Regions from separate parts of the Homo sapiens genome. Here regions 1 and 2 are each linked to region 3. The links come from fine-mapping of genetic effects on gene expression. A gene starts in region 3. Each other region holds a variant in brackets. All regions are shown on one strand. Distances are between the middles of the regions. Region 1 has its middle 22 kb from the start of LDLRAD3. Region 2 has its middle 27 kb from the start of LDLRAD3. Region 3 holds the start of LDLRAD3 (low density lipoprotein receptor class A domain containing 3).

The links. PIP is the estimated chance that this variant, and not a neighbour inherited with it, causes the effect. A credible set is the group of variants that fine-mapping cannot tell apart.
Region 1: its variant is the best candidate, but not a certain one, in a credible set for the expression of LDLRAD3 in monocytes (Quach 2016, PIP 0.80).
Region 2: its variant is the best candidate, but not a certain one, in a credible set for the expression of LDLRAD3 in prefrontal cortex (CommonMind, PIP 0.62).

What each region holds. Positions count from the first base shown.
Region 1 is chr11:35,919,935-35,924,177 of GRCh38, forward strand. No RefSeq gene overlaps it. Among named protein-coding and RNA genes, the nearest start is that of LDLRAD3, 22 kb to the right of the region's middle. The variant A/G (reference allele first, on the strand shown) is at 2,149.
Region 2 is chr11:35,914,896-35,919,138 of GRCh38, forward strand. No RefSeq gene overlaps it. Among named protein-coding and RNA genes, the nearest start is that of LDLRAD3, 27 kb to the right of the region's middle. The variant C/G (reference allele first, on the strand shown) is at 1,668.
Region 3 is chr11:35,942,032-35,946,274 of GRCh38, forward strand. LDLRAD3 (low density lipoprotein receptor class A domain containing 3) reads left to right here and starts at 2,031. Exons shown (of 6, transcript NM_174902.4): 1 at 2,031-2,113. The coding sequence starts at 2,068. RefSeq lists a silencer at 1,942-2,381.

The sequences.
Region 1 (4,243 bases), 22 kb before region 3:
AATTGCAAAGTAAGGCATACTTTAGAAATACCAGCAGATGCAGCTGGTGTCTAGGCTCAAGAGATCCTAGCTATAAAGATGGTACCATGTGGGGGATGAGAGCTAGGACCCAGACTATATGAGTGTGAATCCCAACTCTCACACTCACCAGCTGTGGGACTTTGGGAAAGTCACTTAACCTTTTTCTGCTTGTTTCATCATCTATAACACGGGGATAATAATAGTACATACCTCATTGGGTTATTGTGAACATTATATAGGTTACTATGAATAAAGTGCTTAGGAAAATGACTAATGCATGGTAAGAGCTTGTATGTGTTAGCTATCATTATTTTTACTAAATAATTCTTCCCCATGTAGGTACTGGATTTGTTTGTTGAGTGAATAAATAGATGAATGGATAAAATCAGCCTTAGCATTCACTGCACATAAAACACAAACCTCTCAGTCCCATTTTGCCCAGGTCCATTTTCTCAGCCATGACTGGTGTGCGGTGAGGCTCAGACCTCCTGGTTGTTTCTAAAGCCTTCTTGGGTCTCCACTCTGCAACTTCTGGAAGCTAACCAACCCCCACCAACCCCTCACATATTTAAAAAACAAAGTGTAGTCTAAAATCCATTCAGGGAAAAAAGTTTATTTAAATAAAAATAAAGCAATATTGTCTGTGAAACAAGCACTTAAATAAATGAAACATTTTTCACTGTATGGAAGGACTTTGAAATGGACCAAATGCATTACTGAGTACCTTCAGTGAAAATCTATGTGCTGTCTTGGGCAACCTTCCAGGGTGTTTGATTCTGTGGGATTGCTGCACCTTTCACTGCCTTGAACAATTTTACAACTTTGTAAGTTGCAGCTAACTGATTGCAATACAAGTGATTATTTTCCATGGACATGTGTATGAGTTTTCTGTTGCTGTTTTTAAAAAACTACCATAAACTAAGCAACTTGATATAACATACATGTATTATCTTGTATTTTCTGTGGGTTAGGAGTTCAGGCACAGGTTAACTGGGTCTTCTGCCCAGGATATCAGCAGGTTGAAATCATGATGTGGTCCTGGGCTTGGGTTTCTCTCCTAAGTGCATTTCATTGACAGAATTCATCTTGTGGTTTAAGACTGAGGTCCCTGATTTTTTTTGTTGTTGTTGTTGTTTTTGTTTTTTTTGAGACGGAGTCTCGCTCTGTCGCTCAGGCTGGAGTACAGTGGCACAATCTCGGCACACTGCAATCTCTGCCTCCTGGGTTCAAGCAATTTTCCTGCCTCAGCCTCCCGTGTAGTTGGGACCACAGGCACGTGCTACAATGCCCGGCCAATTTTTTGTATTTTTAGTACTGACGGGTTTTCACCGTGTTAGCCAGGATGGTCTTGATCTCCTGACTTCGTGATCTACCCACCTTGGCCTCCCAAAGTGCTGCGATTACAGGCATGAGCCACCGAGCCCGGCCCCCTGATTTTTTACTGGCTGTCAGCATGGGCTATTCTCAGTTTCTAGAGGCCACCTGCTGTTCCCTACCACGTGGCCTTCACAACTTGGCAATTTGCCTCTCAAAGGTCAGCAGAATCTTTCCTACTTTAAATCTCTTTATTTAAGGGTTTGCTTGATTTAGATCATACCTACTCAGGATAATCTCCCTTTTGATTAATTTGTCTCAAACATTTAATTACACCTGCAAATTCCTTTCACCTTTGTTGACCAATGTAACCTAATCATGAGAATGAAATCCATCATACTCACAGTCCTGCCCATACTCAAGAAGAAGAAATTCTGCAGGGGGTCAGCCATGGTGGCTCACGCCTGTAATCCCAGCACTTTGGGAGGCCGAGGCGAGTGGATCACTTGAGGTCAGGAGTTCAAGACCAGCCTGGCCAACATGGTGAAACCCCTTCTCTATTAAAAATACAAAAATTAGCTGGGCATGGTGGTGCACACCTGTAGTCCCAGCTACTCGTGAGGCTGAGACAGGATGATTGCTTGAACCCGGGAGGCGGTGGTTGCAGTGATACAAGATCACACCAGTGTACTCCAACCTAGGCAACAGGGCGAGACTCCGTCTCAAAAAAAAAAAAGAAAAGAAAAGATAAAAAAAAAAGAAATTCTACAGTCTCAAAAAAAAAAAAAAGTTATGCAAGGCATGTACACTAAG[A/G]GGTAGGACTCTTAGAATTCTGGCTACCACAACATGCAATTAATTTTGAAAATTGTCCCTACTATTTCCCCTCAAGCCAGTTTTTGCATCTCTTCAACAAATTTGTCAGCTTTCTTGTTTTTGTTTGTTTGTTTGTTTGTTTTGGTGGTTTTTTTGGTTTTGTTTGAAACAAGGTTTCACTCTGTTGCCCAGGCCAGAGTGCAGTGGTGTGATCATAGTTGCAGTTGCTCACTGCAACTTTGAACTCCTGGGCTCAAGAGATCCTCCCCCTTCAGCCTCATCTAGGCATTACGGCCACCAACCACCAAGCCCAACTAATTTTTAAATTTTTGGTAGAGATGGGATCTAACTATGTTGCCCAGGCTGTTCTCACACTCTTGGGCTCAAGCAGTCCTCCTCCCTGGGCCTCCTGAAGTGTTGGGATGACAGGTGTGAGCCACCACACTCAGCTGTCGGCACTCTTGATTGCCCATATGTGTATCCACTCTTTGATTTCCTTTGAACCTGTTATAACGTCTTACTGTTTTCCTCATTAATTAATGAGTGAAATAAAATATTTGACATGTGTTCACTTTCTGTTTGTATGAGTCATGGTTTTACTTTTTAAAGTATTCTATTTTACATCAACTTTTATATTAATATTTATTGCATAATTTTTCTTAAAAATGATGGATATGTTACTTACTTTTACATGTGCAACCAAAGGGCTGTTTCCCTTTTCTAGAACTTCTAGCTCTTGAAACCTAATATTATTTGCTTCTGTGAAAATATAATGTTTCTGGCTTTTACTAGCCTCATTTTAAGCGGCCTAATCCTGGGACATAGCAGTAGAACTACCATTACCTTAGCGTTAGAGAGGAGCAAACAACAACCCACCTCACCACCCCTAGATTAATTTCCTTCCTTATGAACAAAAAATATCAAAGGGCCCTGCTGACATTTTCTTCTAGAATCTTGGGATTCCAGGATTTTGCTACTGGAAAGGGCAGAGGATTTTTCTCCTCTCTATGCTCAAAATAACGCACTTTTCTGATCACTAACAATGCCTTTGTGGAAACAAATATCAATGAAAATTAGATGTTATCTTCCTGTGCCTAGCGTGGTGCCTGGTACATAGTAGGTCTTCAGGAGATGTTAGGTCTCTGCTTCCTTTCCAGCCATACTGTGAAGGGTGAAAATAGAAGAGGCATAAAGAGGCTTCTGGGTTCCTGCCTCTATCCTGGCATCAAGCTCATTGGCGGCAGGGCCAGTCTTTCACAAGTGAGTATAGCACCTATGTAGCACACTCCTGATCACTTCCACGAGCAAAGAAAAATCTTGGTCTTGCCAGAGAGGCAAATGAAAGATTAATGCCAGTTAAATAATATATAATAGTAAGATCATTATCCTGTCCTCTCCCAGTCAACTAACTTTGTAATGTGTTAACACTTATGGGGTATACAAAATCAAACTCCATAAACTGTTGTAAAGTGGAAGGAACGATGCTGATTAGTCTGGCGGCACACAAGGACACAAGAATTGTTCTTTGTTTCCCTTTTTCGAGTGAGGAGCCAAGCTGACATTCTGGACAATCATGACAAAACAAATTTCCTGTCCAAGTTTAACAGGAAGCATCCAATCTTTACAACTCGTGCTTCCCATTACACACCCCCATGCTAACTTTCTCACAAGTTTCCTCTACCTTTAAAAGCAAAGGCTGTAATGTCATAGTTTTGTCTTCAAAGCCATCAGCAAATATTGGTCATGTTTCATCAAATTGTGTCCTGGAGAGACAGAAAACCCACATGACTCCCTTTTTCCATTTCTTCTTACTGCGTGGTAAGAATGAAACAACAAACTATTATAGAAAAAGCCTTAAAGAAGGGACTTAAGATGGAGATAGGGAAAGGTATGGTTTGCAGCGTAAAAGTAGAAAAGACAATCAAGTGTGAGCAGTGCACGTTTTTGAAATTGCTTCTGAAACCACTATTATAGGTTACATTGTCAGCAGGCTGTATTGATTATTTTTAGGTAATATATTTGTAGAATCTCTGCTAATGGACACTTCAGGATCATCTTTTGCATTTAATGTATCTAATACCCATTGATCAGGTCA
Region 2 (4,243 bases), 27 kb before region 3:
ATTGAGTCACTTTCTGAAGTGTCACAGACAGTACAAAGTCCCCAGGCATTCAGGCTGTTCCTTAGCTCTCTGGACGATATTATCTCCTTGGCATCTCATCTAAATGCAACACACAACCAAAGTCAGAGCAGACAGAAACCACAAGGAACACGTAAGAGACAGAAGTCAGGGGCCTACCACTTTGCCAATGAGGCAGACTGGAAAGGCAGGCCTGACCCAAATTGCTTCTCACTATAAATAGCTTTATTAAGAATGGGTTGTACTTAGCCACCCCTCAGATGAGATCAAAGCATCTTGAATACATTTCCTGGATGTGGTCTGTTGGGTATAAGAATGACCCAAATTCTTTATGTCCGTACACTGTAGCCAAAATTCAACCAAATGGCATTCTCCTGGAATGGAGACCAGAACCTGGCTTATCCATCTGCATGTGTTCTATGGATATATTCCTACCCTGAGTGTAGGAAAAGAAAGGGGGAATTAGAAACATAGACATTTTTTAAGCATTTCACCCATTTTATTGCATGTAGTTGTCCCAATAATTCTACAAGCCAGGACTTTTATCTCTTTCAGAGAAGAGCAAAATGAGGCTCAGAGAGGGTAAGTATCTCACCCTAAGTCATACAGGACAGGAAAGAAATGGCAAAGCCAGGACATGAATGTGAATCAAACTGCCCAATTTTTTTTTCTTTTTCTTTTTGAGATGGAGTCTTGCTCTGTCACCAGGCTAGAGTGCGGTGGCACAAGCTCGGCTCACTGCAACCTCCGCCTCCTAGGTTCAAGAAATTCTCCTGCCTCAGCCTCCTGAGTAGCTGAGACTACAGGCACACACCACCACACCCAGCTTATTTTTATATTTTCAGTAGAGACGGGGTTTCACTATGTTGGCCAGGATGGTCTTGATCTCTTGACCTCGTGATCTGCCCGCCTCAGCCTCCCAAAGTGCTGGGATTACAGGCATAAGCCACCTCACCCGGCCTCAAACTGCTCAATTTTAAGGTCTCTGTACCCTCTATCATCACACAGCAGGGGGTCTCAAGTAGGCAAATTTCTTATGGACTGACTTCTGAGATGGCCATGTCCCTACAGATGTACAATCTTCTATCTTTGCCTTAGAGTTGCTGTTGAGCTATTGCAGGGAAGGAAGTGGGGAGGTGGTGAATCTAGGAGAGTTAGAATGAGGACTCCAGGGGTTATATCACTTTGATGAAAAAATAACATTATAAGGCATGGCATATTGGTTATAAATTTGTGCAATTTTTATGTGTCAGTTTCTCTGTCTGAATGAACCTCATCTATCCTGTATCAACACAAGTAATTTGTATGTCTTTTTATAGGTTTTTGTTTCATCTTGAACTCCTAGGGCCTGAGAGCCCTGACCATCTATGTTATACCTAGAATTTAGAATTGTTTTTCCTTTTCTTTCAATCCTGATTTAGTGTGGAATTCAGAGTCAGTGCAGGCAACTCAAGAGTGTATGATTATTGCAGAAACAGGCTGCCCAGCCAGGGTCACATTTCATAGTCCTCTGAATGTAGCTGGCCCCATGTGGTCATTTCTAGTCCAAGGTATTTAAGAAAGAGATATGCTCCTTCACGCTTCCTCTTTTCTCTTCCACCTGGTTGCAGAGAACTTTGCAACTAGATGTGGTAGCTCACACCTGTAAT[C/G]TCAGCACTCTGGGAGGCCAGGAATTTAAGACTAGCCTGGGCAACATAGTGAGACCCTCATGTCTACCAAAAAAAAAAAAAGAAAGAAAGAAAGAAAGAAAGAAAAATTAGCCAGGCATGGTGATGTGCACCTGTGGTCCCAGCTACTCAGGAGGCTGAGGCAAGAGGATCACTTGAGTCTGGGAGGTTGAGGTTGGGGCTGCAGTGAGCCATGATTGCACCACTGCGCTCCAGCCTGGGTGACAGAGCAAGATCCTATCTCGAAAACAAAACAAAACTTGAGTATGCCTCAGAATCAACTAGAAGGCTGTTAAAACACAGATTGCTGGGGGCTCTATCCCCAGAGTTTTTCTTCAGTAGATCAGGGACTTGATAATTTGCAAGTCTTACAAGTTCCCAGATGTTGTGGATATACCAATCTGGGCACCACACGTTGGGAACCACTGCCCTAGGGCAACACCCTTGTGTAACACTGGCTATACTTTAGACACCCCTGGAGGTGTTTTAAACTTGTTGATGCCCAAGCTGCAACTAAAACCAATAAAATCAGAATATCTTGGGGATGGGGCTCATGTATTAGCATAAAGCTCCTCAGGTAATTACAATATTGAGTTAAAATTGAAAATCACCAGTGTAAGGTGGAGCCTTAAGATTGAAGAAACATTGGTTCTTAAATCATTGAGTGGAGGAAAGCAGCCCTACTCGAAGAAATACCCACTTTGGATTGTCATACAAACAGGAAATAAACTTTTATTGGGATAGGCTGCTGAAATTTTGGAGATGATTTGCTGTTGCAGCTGGCATTATCCTTATTAATACTACAATGTTGACTATTAAGAACCAGCTTTCAAACATTCTGTTGCTTATCCTTTTAATTCCTGCCTTGTTCTGCTCTGAGAGTATTGATATGATTGGTTAGATTCTGCGATAATTAGTGGCCCGTATTTTCTAGAGGTGGAACTTACAACAGAAATAAGGTTATATACAGCACACGTAACATAGGCATAGCCTCTCTTTTTCTCTCTATCCTCGTGGCCAGAATAGCAGGGTAGCTCTAGTTCATTCTCTTCCCTTCTCCCCACTCCTTCACTTTTTCTCTCCTTGGAAACACAGTCCTCCTCCCACCTGGAAGCAGGCTCAGATTTCTTCACTCAATTTGAAAGGACTTGGGCAGCCACCATTCGGCAAATATTCTAGGCAAAGGTGACAAAATACTTTCGCTTTTTTCTCTGATATAGTTGAAAACCAAGAATCAAAACCAAACCACAAAAAACCTGAGCCAATACACATCAGCCAGAGGCAGAGAACATGAAACTAGAAAGTCGAACAGGTAATACCTGAGAATTGGGCTTGAACCATGACAGGCAAGAAGCATGAGGTCCACTCTTGCTCAAGTTTGCATTATGGTTTTTCACCAAAGCTCTCTCTAAAAATAAAGTGCTACTTACCGCTCCTGTGAAGGCACTGCTGAGAAATGGGGCTAGCCAGCCAAAGGTGGGATTCAGGTGTTTCAGGGTCCTCTGGCCAAATGTCTTCATCGACCCTCCATTAGCTAAAAAGATGGTGTAATTGTGCAAACATAAGCATTTAAAAGGCATGGTGACCAAAAGCAGATATGGATGACTTTTATTGAGGAATCAACCCATGTCTGTGTTCACTCTAAGGGAGACTAACATGTGAATAAACAACTGGACAGATTCCCCCCACCACCCATAAAACTGTCAGGTTTTTGATGGACAGAAATGGAAAAGCTAATGGCTCTAAAAGCATATGTTGCAAGTTCTGCCTTTTCATGATAAACGTAAAGGGACAATAGCCTCAGTTGAGAATCAGTTTCCTGGCTGACGGCAGTGAACTGCCCCTCTCCTGGCTGCTCTTGTTCTTGGAGCTTCCCCTCAACTTTCCCTAGTGGGAAAAGGACAACTTTTTTGGTTGTGAGAAAGAGAAAATCCAACCTAAGATAGTGCTCAAAGAAATTTTATTGAATCATGTACTGAATGTCTGAAATCAGGACTTACTTTAGACATTGATTGATTCGAGGGCTCAAGCACTGTCCTCAAGATCCAGCGTCTCTTGTTCTCGTCCTGACTTGACTGTGTTCTCAAACCCGTGTTCCCTCAATAGATGGAGATGGCTACAGCCGTTCCAACCTCATACCTCTCAAGTCAAGCAAGGATCTAGTGAGAGTCTCCTTCCCAGAATTCCCTGCAAAAGTCTCATTGTGTCTCTAATTGGCTCTAATTAAGTCACATAATTATCAATGAGCCAGTCATTGGAGTCCAAGGAAATGCAATACCTCAATGGGCTTAAACCTAAATCACATGCCCTAGTCCTGAGCCAGGGTGAGTCATCCTGGCAGAAAGAAGAAGGGATGGCGGAATTGTCAAAAGAAGGGGGATTAGATTCTGGACAGCCAAAAAGGAACAGGTGTCTGGCATAGTATCCCTGACTTCCAGGGCCAATCAAAGAAAATTCTTCCTTAACTGTTTTCTCCTGTGGGGCAGCTTAGCGGGCACATATGATTCCCTACATTATGTTTCCAACTAGTCACAATAAAAGGGGAAGGATGGAAACAG
Region 3 (4,243 bases):
GGTGCTTGTAGTCCCAGCTACTTGGGAGGCTGAGGCAGGAGAATCCCTGGAACTCGGGAGGCGGAGGTTGCAGTGAGCCAAAATGTGCCACTGCACCCAGCCTGGGCAACAGAGTGAGACTCTGTTTCATAAATAAATAAATAGATAAATAAATAAATAAATACAACAGTTGACCTTAAATAAGGTTTTACATTAGTCCAAATGATTTCAAAGACATTAATATATTTATATTTAAAAGTGTGTGTGCCTGTGTGTATGTGAGAGAGAGAGAACGAGAGAGAGAGTCAGAGTCAAACTTGCAAAGTAAGGAAGTTGATGTGTCCAAAGAAACCTAAGGAAATAAGAACTATAGCAGTGGGTCAGTTGCATTATCTTTCCGTATCCCTAATGTTTGGAGGCAAATGAGCAGCTGTAGGAGAAATTATTTGCTTATTTGCCTCCTCAGATATTATTATCAAAGGCAGGAGGCCTCTTCCCAACAAGCTTCCCGGAACAATGCACATACCCACATGCACAGGACATTTTGCATAAAATTTTAAGGGCTTTAAAATTCTTTGAAGCCCATGGGACGATCTCCATAATATTCATCAATCCCAGGATAAAAGCCCCGAATGCCAAATCATTTAGATAATTGATTTATATTTTCCATGTGTACTATGAACTATGGAACTTAACCTTTCCTCCCTCACATCACATTTTCTCATTACCTTGAACAATCATTGGTATTTTTAAATTTTGACCTGATCCTTTTTAGCCTTTATGTTTCCAGACTACAGCACGCAATTACAGAGTAAAGTAATTGAATCTTAACACCCTTGAGGGTGTCTCCAGGGCATCCCAAAATCTGACGCAGGCATCCCTTTTATAACTGCCCCTGTACCCATACCTTCCCCTTTCTTTCAGCCAGGTGGAGTTTGTGTAAATAAACTCAACCCTTTTGAGGGGTGGATTTTAGGGATGCAGTTCTATTGTTTTGACAAATGTATACAGTTGTGTAACTACCTCTATAATCAAGATTAGAACAGTCCCACTGCCCCCAAAAGTTTTAATTTATTGATCCATTTATCAATTGATGGACACTTGAGTTGTTTCCAGTTTTTGGCAATTATTTGCGTTAGTCTTTTGCTTTTTTTGGGTGGGGGATCAGAGAGAGTGGAGCACAGAAGTGTCATCCCCTTCTTCCACCATCTAAGTCTTTTGGGGCTTTTCACCAGTGCCCTCTGGAAGCAAGTGCATTGGTGCAGCTATATTTTTTGCATTTGGGTATCTGCCTTTCATGACCTTTTCCTTTTTTTAATTTTATTTTTTCCAAATTGGGTCCCAAACGTTCAACAGGTCAAGGTGGACACTATGCAGACAAAATAACTCATGTGGTCCACGCTGTGTGCATGGTAGGTGTCAGCTGCTCTTACCGGTGGCTCCCGGATCATCAGCCTTGGAATCAGCCACCATGTTGTTAAAAATGCAGAATCTCAGGCTCCACGCCAGATCTACTGAACCAGAGTCAGTATTTTAACAAGATCGTCAAGTGTGCCGGATGCATATTAAAGTTTGAGAAGCACTGGTATTCCACACTCGCTACTAAAAATATACTACAATTTTCTCATAAGATTTGACCCTTTATTTTAACTTTTTCTCTCTCGGTAGTAAACTCACTTTGTAGTTTGAGTAAAGAACTCAAGTTTTGGTCTGGGCGCTGCATCTCGCTGGGTGTGGAAGCAAAGGCAGAAATGAGAGGGACAAAAGGAAGCAGAGAACAGAGCCCAGGCTGTTAGAAGATCCTCGCGGCCAGACCTGGGAGGCTGAAAGGCTGAGAGACCGAAAGGCTGAACCCTCCGCCGCGCTCGGCGGCCCCTCGGAGTCAGGACACCCAGGGTAACATGCGGGTGGCCACGCGCAGCCCAGGCGCTTGCAAAACTTAGCGGAGCCGGGCCGGGGCCGGGCCCGGGGAAGGCGGGAGGGAGGAGGGCCAGGCGGGAGGGCGGGGACGGCGCGGCGAGGGGCGGGGTCAGCGCCGAGGCCGCGGGGGCAGCAACGACGCCGGGCAGCGGGAGCGGCGGCCGCGCCATGTGGCTGCTGGGGCCGCTGTGCCTGCTGCTGAGCAGCGCCGCGGGTGAGTCGGGGGGCGGCCGGCGAACTTCCCGCGGGGCGCGGGGCGCGGGGCGCGGGGCGCAGCGGCCGGGTGCGATCGCGTCCTCTCCCGGGCGCGGGCCGCTCTCCGGGCGTGGGTGAGCGCGGAGGGCGGACCCCGGCGCCGGGCTGGCCCGGACCCTGCCGAGGGGCCGCCGCGGGGTGCGAGCCGTCCTATTGTGTGGGCGTGCGCGCCGGGTCGTGTTGTGCTGTGTGCGCGGGCGGGGCTCTGTGTGCAGTCCGGGTCTGGGGAGCCCGGCGGCTGCCCCGATTGGGCGTAGCTCGAGTGTGGCTGTGTGTGTGTTGTGTGTGTTGAGGAACGGAGGCGGGGAAAGGAAAGGAGAGGAGAGGAGAGAACTCTTCCCTGGTCTCATCTTCCCAGACGCCTGGTCGCGCGCGGCTGCGTTAGCCTCCTCTGGGCCTCTTCCCGAGTCTCTGGCGTGCACTCCGTGCCTCAGTTTCCCCACCTGCACCGCGGAGGGAGTAGCAAAGCTGCTTCCTTTCATTCCTCTCTGGGACTGTTTGGTTTGGGTAAAGTGAGTTGAAGCAAGGCCGGATCTGGGAATTCATTTTTCCCCACTGATCCTGGGAACCGAAGCTTTATTTAAGACGTCTGACCACCCTACTTGCCCCGCGATGGGCGCCCTGACCGGCGAGGGGCCCTGGGAGAGGACACGGGGCTTCATCCGGCGGCCCTTTGAACCTGGCATCACCACCGCGTGTGCATCCCGGGGCCTGGACCGCAGCAAGCCTCTTTCCCTTCCAGACAGCGTGCTGTTCCCAGGAACTTTTCTGCTGATGTGGGCATGATCCGAATTCCAGCCTGGGAGCCCTTCCTCCTCTGCCCCTGCCCGCCGCCCACAGCTGTCAGCTGTCCCTCCTGGACTGGGCCCGCCCTTGGCCCCTTGACGTTTATTTCTGGGCATCTGATGCCTAGAATGTGGGTGACAGGGCCCAGTGAACTTTCTTCAGCAGAATCTTGCCTGCCTGGTGTTTGTGCCATCCACATGTCCAATAGCTGCCCTATTTTGCCAAGTGCTTCTAGCAGCTTGGCTGTCGAGGTGTCTTTGGTGGCCTGTGGGTTTGCTAAGTTGAGGCTCACTTCATTCTTAGCTGTGCCTTGGAGTTATGAATGCGTTAAAGGGATATCTCCTCTCTTCCTTGATGTCCCTGGTCCTGGGCATCCTCACAGCCCACTGGGCAGCCTTTCCTGCTCTCAGACCCATGACATCATCTCCACTCCTCTGATACCCCATTTAGATGCTTATGGGTTTGCTGGGCTTCCAGGGAGGGACTAGACCTCCTGGTGACTGCTGTGGATTTTTAACCAGGTCTGGGTGAGAGTGCCCTTAAATTAGTCCACCTGGGGAGAGAGTTCTCACAGGACATTGGGCAGCCAGGAGCAGGTGTGAATTGTTTGGAGGCTGTTAGAGCAGGTCGATTTTCAGGGCGTCTACAGATATGAAGACCTGTTTGGATTCACAAATTCAATCTGTGTAGCTGTGGTGTGTCCCCTCATAGCACCTGAGAAGGACAGTATGGAAGCTGGCTCTTGTGTGTGTCCTGGGAGAGCCACTGTAGCCAAATGGAAACTTATTTATTGCATCTCCCAGTTGGTACTGGGTTGCTTTAGTTGAGTCTCCATCTCTGTAAAAATAGTTGTAAAGTTAATTTTGTCCCTCTCTGGTCAGCAGTGGCTATTTAATGTGTGTGTGTACATCTGAGATAGGGCTAAAATAAATAAAATGGTCATAGCAAGGAGCAGACGGATAGGGGGAGGAATAGTCCAACTGTCCCTGGTGGGTTTTCCATTATCTGTGGGCTTTGAATTACCTTTAGAGTTGCTGCCTTAGAAACATCTAGGCAGGTTGGAGTGTGTGCATCTTTCATGTTACATTAAGCATCATCTTTTTAGCATAGATTTCACTTTGACCCAAGTGTTGCCAGAAACAGGGCTGGTCCTTTTTCCTAATGTCAACTAGATGCTCCTGGGCTCCCAGCCCATAAGAAAAGCCTGTTTGGTTCAGTTTGGGTTTCATAGCCAGACCAGAGACCCTACCCCTCCATCCCATGGCCTATGCTTGGATCCTCTTCTGGGAAGTTGATAAAACAA